2 linked regions of the Homo sapiens genome follow. The protein of the gene in region 1 purifies or fractionates together with the protein of each later gene. This does not show direct contact. Each region holds a gene or a part of one and is shown on either strand. Other genes may lie near its edges.

Region 1 (7,038 bases):
CAAAAATTCCTATGCAGAGCTGAGGGTTCCAAAATTCAGTGATAGAAAATTAAATTCTAAAATTGCCTTTTCATTTAACCATTAAAATTTTTTGCAATATCAAAAGCAACAACAGTGCTTTGTTGTAATACACCATTCATAGTTTGTGATATAGTCAACTCTTGACTGTTAACTGGTGTGTCTGGGCCTGCTACCCAGTTTGTGGATTGCCCAGACCCTGTTTCTCTTCTCCCATTTATCGTCCACTCTGTGGTTGGCCATCAGAGGAGGAAAAGAGGAAGGAAAAACCCAGTGGTGACAGTTAGGACTCTTGTTAGCTTTTTCTGATGGGAGGTTTGGTGGGACAAGACATTGAAACCATTAGTTACAATGAATTTTTAAGAATTTCATCTCATCCATGCTTTCTTCGTCTGCCATGTCCATGAATAATTGAGAGTGTTCCATGTGGCTCCTTAAATACCTGTGACAGTGATTGATGACCCTCATTTTTCCTGTTATATTTTTTAAGCCCTTCTCCTAGGTTACCAGCATGAATGTAATTAAGGTAAAATTAGCACTGACCCCTGTGTTTTGAGGAGGGTGGGTAAAGGATGAGAAGGAACTTTGTACCATTATAGTATTTGTCCAGTTTCTTTCTCCCTTGCCTTGACATTCCTATAATTGCCTTAAATTCTTTTAACAGTTTCACATGCCAAGTGCAGAATATAAAAGATGGAAAATGAAGAGCTTTAAAGACAGTATTAGGGGCATGCAACATGTCTGTGATACGTGTAAGAATTATTTTGCATATAGGTAAATATGACAAATTGAAGTAAGAGTCTGTTGCCCAGTAATCAGATGTTGGACAAAGTAACTTTACTGGAATTTGGTTCTTGAGCTAATCGGTCAGAGAGATTAACTTCCATATTTGTATTTCTTATAAAGTCAGAATTTTTTGTCTGTATTTCTCTAGTTGAGGAACTTTGGATGATATTGAATATTTTATCTCAATTGATATAAGAGAATGAAGTTAGAATGTGAATATTGCAGCTATTTTATAATCAAGGGTTCAGATTTGGGTTCTCCCAATTACCAGCTCTGTGACCTTGAACCCTCTGTGACCCGTCTGTACAAGGGAGTACTATTTAGAGGTGCCTGCATTCTATGTTGTTTAGAGATGGCAGTGAGATAATGAAAAAAGCAGTGCTTGATATATATTTCTTAAGTTCCCCATAAATATTAAATGTTATTATTTATATATAACATTTAGGGAAAGAAAAACACCACATAATGTAAGTTTAAAAAATTTTCAAAGGAAGCAAATTTACACTGCAGTCAAGATTTTATTCAGATTGTTTATGCAAGCTCTTATTCTAAGAACTTTTCTCTATTAGATTAATGCTAATTGAACCATTAATTATCTTGAAACTATAAATAACATTTAAAAAATTCTTAAAAGTATAATCCTTTAATGTTAAGGCCATTTGATACACACACACACACACACACACACACACACACACACACACACACACACACACACACACACTAGCCTTGCTGCATTCTTCCTGTCAGCAAATTTGGAGATTAATAGTTTTAACTAGGGCGCTTGTGTGCCGTATACATCTGCTGCTGTTTCTTCAGTTTGGCAATGCAGATAGCCGTTTGCCGGGTAAATGGTTTTGGTTACATTAGTCTTAAAGGTTTGAATCTGGATGTGATTGGCACCAGCCCGTTCCTAAGAAACACCTGCAGGGGCTGGATGCGGTGGCTCATGCCTGTAATCGCAGCACTTTGGGAGGCCGAGGATCTTCTCAGATCACATGAGGCCACGAGTTTGAGACCAGCCTGGCCAACATGGTGAAAACCTGACTCTACTAAAAGTACAAAAATCAGCCAGGCATGGTGGCGCACGTCTGTAATCCCAGCTACTAAGGAGTCTGAGGCAGGAGAATTGCTTGAACCTGGGAGGCAGAGGTTGCAGTGAGCCAAGATTGCACCATTGCACTCCAGCGTGGATGACAGAGCGAGACTCTGTTTCAAAGAAAAAAAAAAGAAACACCATTAGGATGGTGCTGCATGTGCTTACACAAAGGGTGTTGGTGGCATTTTGTGTTTTAACATTTGGATAGCCAGGCAAACAACTTTAGAGCAGCATTTTCTCTCCCTAATCCTTGACCTGGATTCTCTGTTCTCTGGTGTAGGGCAGAGAGAGGGGCACGGAGGCCCCTGGGCTAGAAGCAGCGGAGCCCCACCTGACTGGAAGGGATTTGTGGTCATAATTTCTGCAGTGCAAGGGGCCAGGAGATGGGTGTCCTATTCATTCATGGGCCACACCTGTGCTTGGCTGCTTTCCAACAGGGTTGGCTCCCTCTTTCTGCCTTGAGAATTCTCCCTTTCTGCAGCTCAGAGGTGGGGGTGGCTGGGGTCTAAATGAATCAAGTACATTTTCTCCATTTTGTTCTAGTATGACCTCTCTTCCTCCACTTTGCACATAAATATAAAAATGCATCTAATTCTATCACCCCAGCCCTACCTGCCCCCAAGGGAACATTTTTTAGTTCACTTCCCAACAACTGCATGGGAAAAGGAGGAGCTGGTGATGTACAATAGGATCCAGAGGTATAAACACCTTTTATAAATTGGTGAACAGACTTCTCCAGGTTTTGGAAGGTCAACTGTATTGTGAAAATTTAAAAAAAGGTTGGGAAACAGTGTTAGTTGATAATAGGAACTGTTAACACAAACAACAAAAACAGCAGATGATTGTAAGTTTATTAGCATTTGGCACCAGAATGACCTTTTTCTCTTTAATGAAAAGCCCCTTTACCTGCCACATGTAGGCATTGCTTAGATTGATCTCCCATAAACATTGCATTCTTGAAAAGCCACCAAAGTCGGAAGACAAAAGCCAGAGCAGGGCTAAACTTTGATCCTGGATAATCCACAAACTAGGCCTTTCACATGCAGATGATCAAGAGTTGACTGTACTCGTGTTAATGTTTCTCACTCTGCTTATCAGACACTAGAAGCGTGGGCTCTACGTATAGAAGGTAGGCACCCAGCACTTAACACTGAGGGAAGTAAAAGTCTGCACAAATTCTAGTAGTATGTATGGTTCAAGAACCATATTTTTGTTGTCTTCTTTCATTTATAAGCTATCCATTTCTCCAAAAGACATTTTGACAGTCTTATTAATAAGTTGCAATTAAAAACCTTGACATATAAAATAATGTGAACATAAAGTATAAATTTATTTTAGAATGTAATTATACCAAATAATCTTTTAATGTAACTATTTAAAAATGCAGAATCTTAATAGAGTGTTCAGTTTTGACACTCTTTCTGTTAATACGTTACCTGTGTGCAGATCTGAAATGTGAAGTGTTATTTTACGAAGAGATTGTGGAGCCCTGGGCTCTAAGGAGACCACACATCATTGCTCATTTTGTCACACGTCAGCCTTAAGTACAGTGTTACTCTACACTGCGGAACGCTTTATAAACCCAACCTGAAATACTTGAGTATGTTTATAAAATATTCTCTTAAATTCAAATGTGTTAAATCACATAAGTATTTCTGTTCAAATGAGGCCAGTGTTAGGTCAATATAAGGTAATGGTAGGACTACTTAGTGGTGCTGTTTTGTTGAGGAATATTCTGTTAACTTTGGAGAGTTTTACTAAGACTTTGAAAGAATTTAATACTGTAGTACTCTTATTCCATAGAAATTACTCTTTTCAATTTAAAGATTGAGAACCTAGATCCCCGAGGAATTCAGCTATCAGCTCTCTTCATGAGTGGAGTAGACATGGCCTTGTTTGCAAATGATGCATGCGGACAGCCAATCCCCTGGGAACACTGTTGTCCTTGGATGTATTTTGATGGGAAGCTCTTCCAATCCAAACTCCTCAAAGCCAGCCGGGAAAAGACCCCACTCATTGACCTCTGTGATGGTCAGGTATGCTGCGGGGCCGGGTGGCTGCCTTTAACTGCAATGAAATAAAGCTCACTGGTTAAATCTGTCATCTTTTATACCATATTTATCATCCTGTGTTTCAAGATTCTGTTTTAGGTTGGGCCTGGTACTGAGTGTCACTAAATATCACTTCAGTACCCAGGATGAGCCAAGCTCCTGATATAACATTGTTTCTCATTATTTGTGGTAGTAATGTTCTAAAATTCACCTTGAACGCCAAATTAGTGAATACTGACCATTGCTCCTAGGGGCAATACAAGGTGCTGGGTTCCTTCAAGGCTCTGGTCACATATTTTTGTTAACCAATCAGTATATAATCTTATTTCATGTGCATTTTCGTTAAAGACACCTTATATAATATGGATTGTTGATTCATTATTATTGAACTCACAGCCAGTAGCTTCTGTAACACGTATATTCTCTGTAAGGCACATCACAGCCTCCTTATGCATTTAGGAACACCAGACAGCACTTCAGCACTACACTTGGAGACCATTTTATTTGTTTGTTTGTTTTGGTTTTTTTTTTTTTTTTTTTGAGATGGAGTTTCGCTCTTGTCGCCCAGGCTGGAGTGCAGTGGTGCGGTCTCAGCTCACTGTAACCTCCACCTCCCAGGTTCAAGTGATTCTCCTGCTTTAGCCTCCCTAGTAGCTGGAATTACAGGTGCCTGCCACCATGCCCAGCTAATTTTTGTATTTTTAGTAGAGACGGTGTTTTGCTATGTTGGTCAGGCTGGTCTTGAACTCCTGACCTCAAGCAATCCACCCACCTTGGCCTCCCAAAGTGCTGGGATTACAGGCGTGAGCTGTTGCACCCAGCCAGGGACCATTTTAAACAGTGAAATTACCAACAAAAAAGGACAAAAATGTGAAACACGTGGCACTTAATAAACTGTGAAAAGGATTCTTGTTTTCAGTATGAGCTGAAACAAGAAGGCAAGCGTTGTCTTGTTTGACCTCAGCTGGGGTCAGTGCATCAGGCAACAAAAATCTTTGCCGTGTTCTGCACAAGTCTGCAGACGACCAGAAAACTGCCATAAGTATTGATTTTTGTGGTTACAAATAAACGTTAGCAAGTAGGAGAATTTGCAGACATAGAATTCATGAATAAAGGGAACCAACTGTATAGTTGATAGATCTTATTTCTTTAGTGCTCATTTAAATTCAATTAAAACCCCCTGTGGATGGCATTTTCACATGCTGGTCCTTGTCTTCCAGGCTGATCAGGCTGCCAAGGTAGAGAAGATGCGCCAGAGCGTCCTCGAGGGGCTCAGCTTCTCCAGGCAGAGCCACACGCTCCCTTTCCCGCCGCCACCTGCCCTGCCCTTCTACCCTGCCTCTGCGTACCCCCGGCACTTTGGGCCTGTCCCACCCTCTCAGGGCAGGGGCAGAGGCTTTGCAGGTGAGTTGATTGGGACGTATTCCTGTGGGTAACAGATGCCAGATTCCTGTAAAGAAAGTGCAGCCCTTATAGGCAAGCCCATCTGCTGTGTTGACCTTGTCACTGTTGGTCTTGGAGATCCTGCAGCAGCAGTTCTTCAAGTCCGTGAGGAGCAAGTTTAATCCTGGAGATAGGGGAGAGGGACCTGCTGATGCAGATGCAAAAGCTGCACCGTAAAATCTGTCAATCAAGCTGAAAACTCTGCTCACATTTTAAGATATATTTGTTTCTCATGTGTAAGGGAAAATAAACCCACCCAGGTCAGAGAGAGCCATCTTCCAGGACTCATCTCCCAGGGCCCTTCCTGAGCCCCATGCTAGTGCCCTGTTGAATGACCCACTGCAGGGAGGGTGGCCTTACAATACTGGTCCCCAGGGACCATGGGCACAGGACAGTGAGGTGACAAGAGGGGCCAGGAGACCCCTCCATGGCAGCTGGAGGAGGCAGGGGCCACTCTGCCTGAATACCCAGCAGGGCCCTGAGTCCTGTCCCTTACACTTCTCCCCTCTCTCTCTACCCCGGGTCCCACAGGCGTCTGTGGCTTTGGAGGCCCCTATGGGGAAACGGTAGCAACAGGCCCTTACCGTGCCTTCCGTGTGGCGGCAGCATCGGGACACTGCGGAGCCTTCTCAGGCAGTGACAGCAGCAGGACTAGCAAGTCCCAGGGCGGTAATTATACCCACCCCTTCCCAGAGCTTCTGCCTGCCAGCACTTCCTTCGCTCCATCGTCTGGCGCCTTCCTTCCTCTACTGTCCTCATGAGCCCCTCCTCCAGCAGAACGGCCTTTCTTCTGGGTCCCCGCTCTGACCCTCATTGACCACTCCTCCTGAGACTCTCTGCTCTCAGGTCTCAGCAGCGGCTCTGCTGTGGCCAGTCTCTCCTTTCAGGGTAGACCACTGAGTGTCCACCTAGAACAGAACCTTTCTGTGCACCTGGGTAACCTGACCATCGCCTCGTGTTCATAGGATGAGCTGCTAATAGTGGCGTTTCTTTCCCAAGCAGCCATCTTTTGGTAAAGATTATCATGCTTGTATAGAAAATGCTAATGGTCACAGAATTCCTGACATAAAAAGTCTGTCACAGTTTGTTTCGCAGAAACATTTTTAAACAAAGATCTAATGTTGGGCATATAAACAAGGCAGTTTACTGTAGATTCCCAGTGCTTCTCTTTGCATTTGTATTAGGCTTGCAAAAGAGAAAAGGGTCTTAACATTTAGCATAGGAAGCAATGTCTTGTGATGGTGCTGTAATTGGAAGTCAGTGACCTGTATCTTTGTCCTAATCCCACATTTTGGGACTGCAGATCTAAATCTGCCCATCAAGTCACATAACAGGATTAACTGTTCAGATGTGATTTTGGAGTTGCATTGAGGATGGGCAAGCCTTTCTCTCTTGATCAACAATGTTTTTCCAACTCAGTTACATGGGATAGTTAGGGAGGCCAGCAAGGGAACTGTGCGGAAAGGTGACTTGCAGATTTGGCGACGGGTCAGCCCCTCTGTCTGCAGGTCACCTCTCCTTTCCCTGGTGCAGCTGCATGCCTCTCTGCCTCCTCTGTCTGCCCACCAGCCTCCTGCAGTGTGCTACTCTGCTCTGTGACTGCTCCTCATGCAGCTCGCAGCCATGTTTCCTCTCTGCTTC
Region 2 (7,038 bases), on another chromosome or scaffold:
TTCCCACTCAGAAAACTAGTCACTGAATCATCATCTTCCAAGAAAAAAAAAGTGAAAATTCCACTTAAGCAGTAACAGAACAGGATTAAAATAATAAGAAAAAGCTTAGTTTTCTCTAGAATTATTACACTGAACATGCCAAAAATCAGTGCTAATGGACATCAACAAGTTCACACTAAACTACAGCCTCCACACGCTTTCTAAAGCAGATTACATTAGAATCAAGTCAGATATGATCACAAAATGAGAATACCTGCATATGACTCTGATGCAGAGCTTCCACTTCTATCAAAAACAATTGGAGATATGCCTCTAGCTCTCTTCCTTTCCTTCTTTTTCTCATCTAAAAAGAACAAGAGTTTTTTTTTTAAATCACAATACAGAAACGAAGAGAAGTAATCAAACAAGAATGTATCATTACATGTCTAGTTTTTGCATAGCCCTTCTATTAGTCTGTGCTCCTCTCTCCTGATCCCTCAATTTCCTCAGAATGTTTTATTTTAAAAATACTGTTTAAAAAGTACGGGCATCTTGTTTCTTTCATCAGTTTCAATCAAATAAAAACACACGAAATAACTACAAAGTCAGGGCCTTAATTGCCATATATAGGTGGCCTTGAATACAGTTTTCCAAGCGGGGGGGGAAATTTGCAAAGCAAAAACAATTTCTTTCAAAACTGTGTCCTTTCTACACACCAGGTAACACTGTCTTAAGTCCTTATTTTTTTAAACTCCACTACCATTCTTCAGCACAATTACAATTCTGATTCTATCTTAAGAGATCTGATGAACCCCTGAACCCAAAGCTTTACAACTGGAAAAATATATATACCATAATTAGTGATTCCCTTCTGGTTGCCATTGCTTGTTTTTGTGTCTTCTATTTCATTCTCCTTAGCCATTTCCTCCCTGGATTACTGCTCTTATTTTCAAATTCAATTTAAAATTTATCCCTACAATTTTAATGGTAGCCTGTGTATTTCTGTAAGAGAGCTGAAAATCTTCAGTAAATAGAAAAGGTTTGGATTACCTGCCATGTAAGAACCAGTCCCAAGCTTAATTTGGAACTTTGTAAGCATATACATGAGGACTTGAAATGGAATTCAGCTCTCCTATCTGTTTATTTTTATCTTAGTTTTACCATGATAAGCTCCTTTTACTTTTCAGCTTAGAGATAAGGGAATAGGAAGAAAAAAATGCATATACTTATTTTTATATAAACAATGGAAAGCTGAAAAATAATAATCAGTGATCATGTATACAATAACCTACTATATAATGACAGCTATTTAAAAAGCTTTAACTACTTATCTCCTTTAATTCTCATAACAAGTTCACAAGATATTCTCATTACAGATGAAGAAACCTTGAATTAGACAGGCAGTTAGGCAACTAGACTAGGGTCCCACAGTTCCTGGATGGCAGAACCTAGACTCAAGGGCAGGTCCTCTGGCTTGAGCAAGTAGAAAGGATGTTTTATACTATTTTTGAAAGGTGATTACAGGTTTAACTAGTTTTGGGGGCTTTTTTCATTATTTCTTTCAAAAGTTCTGACATGTTTCTTCTAATTTTTCCCCCATGGATATTTCTTTCAGTAGTCTAAGCATTATGAATGCATCTGACTGAGTGTAATTTATCTCTTGTTGCTGTTAAAAAAGAATTATTTCATGGTCCAAAGTACTAAAAAGGGCCTGGTGCAGTTGCTCGTGCCTGTAATCCCAGCACTTTGGGAGGTCGAGGCAGGCGGATCACTTGACCTCAGGAGTTCGAGACCAGCCTGGGCAACATAGCAAGACCCTCTTTATATAAAGACAAAAACAATAATTAAAAAGTTACTAAAAAGATCTGAGATAATGCAGGGAAAATAACAGAAGCAGAAGATCCTACTCAATTGTTTTTATATAATGCTAAACCTAGCATTAGCATGAGAAATCTCCAAGGAATTTTCATCATTTTTGTATGAATAACTCCCAATGCTCTTAAGTTTATGGCCCTCTCCCCCAACTATTACTCTCAGGTCAAAAGAACAATGAAAATCATCTAATAAATAAACTGTTATCAATCAGTCTGTTGCTTTTATAAAGTTACCAAAAATTCTGAGAATAAGGTAAAATGAACTGGAATCTAGAAAATTCATGACAGAGAAACTCAACTGTGATCACTTTTATTTAAAAACTGACGTCTCTTAATCAAGAAGTTCCAAAATCACCCCATTACTCTTTCATAAACTATTGTATAAAAAAAAATTTCCTGCATATTAATATAGTACCTAAAGCATGTTCCACATAAGGGATTTTCCTTTATAAGGAAAATAAAACTTTCAGGTATCTCTTTTAGAATAAACCTAGTCTAGTAACAGAGTTTTGATATCAAGATTTATTATAAAACTACAGTTACCATTTAATTTGAAATGTCTTCTCCACAAAAACAAAGTGTGTCAATCAAGTTACCTTACTATGGTATCATCTAGGAGCCTGTTACAAATGCAATTTCTGGTCCTACCCATTTAAGTAAGTTCCCTTTGTTTAATGTAAACAATACAAACATTAAAGTCTAAGAAATAACAGAGATACCAAAAAGAAGATTCCTACAACAAAACGTTCCCTACCCAAGGGAGTGGTTTCATACATTCTCCACAATAAATGAACATTCAACACATACTGCTAATGAAATATTTATTATCTTAAATTATAAAAAATATATCCTATCAGTTTGTAAAAGGCATGATGGAAGCATAAAGATTTCATATGTTTTTACAACAAATCCAACTACTCATCTATTCTGTTTAACTCTACCTCCCTTGAAAAGCCTATCTTAACTCCCAAACCTAGAATTCTAGTGAACAAAAGGTTGAAAGCACTTCAGTTGCCAATCACTAGAAAATAACTGGCCATCTGCTCTACCTATACTGTATGTAGTATAGATATATACTATCCATATAGTATAAATATATAGTATAAAATATATAGTATAGATATATACTATCTGTATATAGTATAGGTAGAGCAGATGGCCAGTTATCTTCTAGTGATTGGCAACTGAAGTACTTTTCTATACTATATATACTATATATATAAAACAATGTACTATTATAAATGATCAAATTCTATAATAAACTGTAAATGTATTTCAAAAAAATAGGAATTTTCTTATGTTTAGTACATTTTGCTTATGTAGCAATCTGGTAGCATCTTTACATAAGACAGTCATGAGATTATAATCATCATATAGTGCTCTGTAAGTACCCTGACCTCTCCTTGCTGTACCCTCCCCCAAGAAAAGTTCCCCTAAGCCTAGTGCCTCCAACTACGTAACAGTCATACATTTTTGTCTCATAGGTATAGAGAGGCAGGATATATATAGCATTGAAGAAATGACTGAAGATGGTTCTTACCTGATTTTTCCACAAGAATTTTATTTATAGTCTTCATCTCCATCTTATACCTTACACCCCAGCCCTCTTGTCGACCCTGTCTCAGCCAGTCAACTGACAGACACAAAATTAGAAGAAAAGTCTGTGCTCCCAGAGATAAAAAAGAAATAATCTGTTTTGATTCTGAAGCCATATGATGGAAATCTAGGGGTATTTTACCAAGGAAATACTGTAATACCCAGTGGACAGGTTTCCTATGAATATACTTCAAGTACATCAGTGTTTAAATAAACTGCTGACTGGTATGAAAATCTAAGAATTTACAGAAATCTGAAATACATTTCCTTATACAGAATCAAATGGACTTGTGTTCATTTACAACACAACCATTCTGTAGCTAGGAAATGCCTTTCCTAAAATATGTAAATCTTATCCAAGATTATTCAAATGTATTTATAACATTCAAAAGCATATAAAGGATCACAAGACAATCCTATTAATATCCCCCATCTCCTCAACAATTTTATAATTTAAACATTTTCAAGACTGAAACCTATCAAGCTTTTTTTAAGACAAACTTTTACATATAAAAAGTAGTACCTGATCCATCTGTGCCTGAACCAGATCTGACAGACCCATCTGTGAAGGAAACAGATTCAGAACCAGAGTCACTGGCCTCACTTCGAGTGTCATAATCATTTCCCTCCTCTTTCTGGTCTCTCTCATCCTGTTCATATTCTTCTTCTTCCTCCTCCTCCTCCTCCTCTTCCTCCTCCTCCTCTTCCTCCTCCTCCTCTCCATCTTCATCCACCTCTTCATCTTCTTCTGCATCTTCTTCTACTTCTTCATCTTCCTCCACATCTTCTTCCACTCCTTCCTCCTCATTCTCAGTGTTGTTCCCTTGCTCATCAGAAGAACCACTGCTGCCAGTCTCATGGTCAGAGCCATATTCTTCAGAGTTCACTTCTTCCTTAGAAGACTGGCTGGATCTGCTTGCACGTCTATCCACTTCAAGCCCAATTCTCTGATGTTTAAAGAAAAAGGGAATCAGCAGTCATATAAAAGACAAGGTCAGGGTGAATAAACAGTTCTAAAGCCTCAAAAAGAATGGCTTTCTGTTTTATATCTGCAATAATATTTACTACCTCAGAACCATCTGGCGTAGGAGATTTGGCCCTCCTTTCAGGATCCCTTTTCCGGACACAGGTTTTTTCAGGTTGATTCTTATAAGGTTCTCTGGAGGCACTACTTGATAGACGAATTTTCCGATCAGCATCTAGACGCTTGTTTCTTTCAGATCTTTGATATTCCTCATTTTTATACTCTGTGGCTGACTTTCCTTTTGTACTAACTATTCTTTTGTTATTGCTAACAGATGAGCTCAGTGGCTTAGAAACCAGTTGTCTAGAATGGACAGAAGGCTTTTGTCGTTTGGTATCAGTAGATTCCATTCGATCACTTTTTCTTTTTGATCCTTTAAAATACAATGTAAAAAAAAAAAAAAGAAGTATTTGTAGTATTCCATTTATTTCACCAAAGACTGACAATAATATATACATCAGGAAGGGGGGATAGGCCTCATTTCTTTAAAAGTCTTCTGAGAGATTTCTTCTCCAGAGTTAATCTAAAAGAAAACATAGCTTTCAACTATGGGAATAAAACCATATATTTGAGAAGTTTCATATATTAGAAAAAAACAGATTATCCCTATTCATATGGATACCAGTTTATTATGTACATTTAGTGTTAACTGCCTCAAGGAACAAGCACAAAAAAGCACAGTCATTTTTTTTAAGAAATTGAATCTCCTCTATTTATACTGTTATTTCAACAAAAATAATAGAACTCTTACATACCCTTTTTCTCATTTTTATCTTGTTCACTCTCTGGATTATACAGTTCATCATCTTGTTCTGGTACTTCAGTTAAAATATCATCCAGAACATTAAGTTCTCCATCTGCAAATAAAATTAAAAATTAATAGGGAAAAATCACTATCATTGAACATGTATTTTTGAGTACTTACTAAGTGTGAGGCCACAAGCGCCTAGGAGCTTTTACTTTTATATAAAAAGCTTTACTTTTATTTCAGAATCAAGACACAAGATTAATTTCTATAAAACTAATACAGGGTAAAGAATTGGCCAGTCGTGGTGGCTCATGCCTGCAATCCCAGCACTTTGGGAGGCTGAGGCAGGCCAATCACGTGACGCCAGGAGTTTGAGACCAGCCTGGCCAACATGGCAAAACCCTGCTCTGCTAAAAATACAAAAATTAGCAGGGCATGGTGGCACATGCCTTTAACCCCAGCTACTCAGAAGGCTCAGGGACAAGAATCACTTGAACCTGGGAAGCAGAGGTTGCAGTAAGCCAAGATTGTGCCACTGCATTCCAGCCTGGGCGATAAGAGTGAGTTTCTCAAAATACACACACACACACAAACAGAAGTCTGGGCTATCTGGTCTACAAAGCCAGGAGTATACATCTCAGAAGGCATGAAAAGATATACTGAGGCATAAAAAGAAAATGCAAGAATGTCTCTATTTTTACCTCATTCTTTAATTTCTAATATTTCTGAGGGCTTTAAAATGTGTACAATAAATTAGTATACAAATACGTATGTACAACTTATAAATACACATTTACCAAAAATGTGCACTCTCCACAATTACAAAGGGAAAACGACTTTACAGTGGAGAAATGTTTCACAGGCCAAATTAACCAGATAATCAAAGTTAACATCACCAGTAATGAGACAAATCAACATCATGGACCTCCTGTAACAATGCTCTGAGAATAGAACAATGCTTTTGTAATGTTCTATGCAAAATGGAAAAGCTGAACCTACATGAGGAAAAAAATCAGACAAACCCAAATTAAAGGGCATCCAAATATGTCACTGTCATGAAACAAAGAGTAAGAACTATTTCATATCAAAGCAGACCTAGAGAGGCATGATAACTGAACACAGCCCACAATATTGGACATAATTGGAAAAACTGGTGAAATCTGAATAAAGTTTGTAAATCAGAGTAAGTAGCAATGTTATTTTTCTAATTTTGACTGTACTATGGTTAAGTCAAAGTCCTTATAACACATATTTAAGTATTTAGGGACAAAGATATATTATGTCTACAACTTACAAATGGTTCAGGAAAAAAGTGTGCACACATGCACGTACACACACAGACACACAGAATGAGACAAATGTGACAAAATGCTAACATCTGCAGAATGTGTTTGGAGAGTAAAAGAAAATTCTTCACACTGCACTTGTAGCTATTATGCTTATCTGAAATTATGTCAAACTGCAAGTTAAATGAAAAAATTATCAATGTGCTATATAATAAAAAAAACATTTAGAGCCTGCTGGTGTGGACTGTAAAAGCACAAAACTTGTTCAGAGAAGGGAACTATGACTTTATTCAATGATCATGAAAGCATAAAACTCAGTTTTGTCCCCACTTCTACCTTGTCCAACAAGATAAACCTTAGAAATACACACAAATACCATTTTAAATTTTAAAATGTACTAATGCTAATAGTAAATGTTTAAACATTAACTATTCCAATATCAAAAACATCTTTCCAAATTTAAGGTGTGCCAAAGAGGAAGTATAAAGCCATGAAAACTGATGAGACAGAACAATTACATTTGTGGCTTCA

Evidence for each region. The genes of interacting proteins can lie anywhere in the genome.
Region 2: the proteins of FAM120A (region 1) and YTHDC1 purify together in Homo sapiens (co-immunoprecipitation; 2 studies listed by BioGRID and IntAct, with this or other methods). This does not show direct contact.

What each region holds. Positions count from the first base shown.
Region 1 is NC_000009.12:93,552,653-93,559,690, forward strand, and holds part of FAM120A (constitutive coactivator of PPAR-gamma-like protein 1), read left to right. Parts: exon of another isoform or gene 1-3,706; intron 3,707-3,729; coding exon 3,730-3,939; intron 3,940-5,174; coding exon 5,175-5,358; intron 5,359-5,928; coding exon 5,929-6,066; intron 6,067-7,038. UniProt on the Homo sapiens protein: Component of the oxidative stress-induced survival signaling. May regulate the activation of SRC family protein kinases. May act as a scaffolding protein enabling SRC family protein kinases to phosphorylate and activate PI3-kinase.
Region 2 is NC_000004.12:68,333,055-68,340,092, forward strand, and holds part of YTHDC1 (YTH domain-containing protein 1), read right to left. Parts: intron 5,331-7,038; coding exon 5,229-5,330; intron 4,847-5,228; coding exon 4,518-4,846; intron 4,397-4,517; coding exon 3,973-4,396; intron 344-3,972; coding exon 254-343; intron 1-253. UniProt on the Homo sapiens protein: Regulator of alternative splicing that specifically recognizes and binds N6-methyladenosine (m6A)-containing RNAs.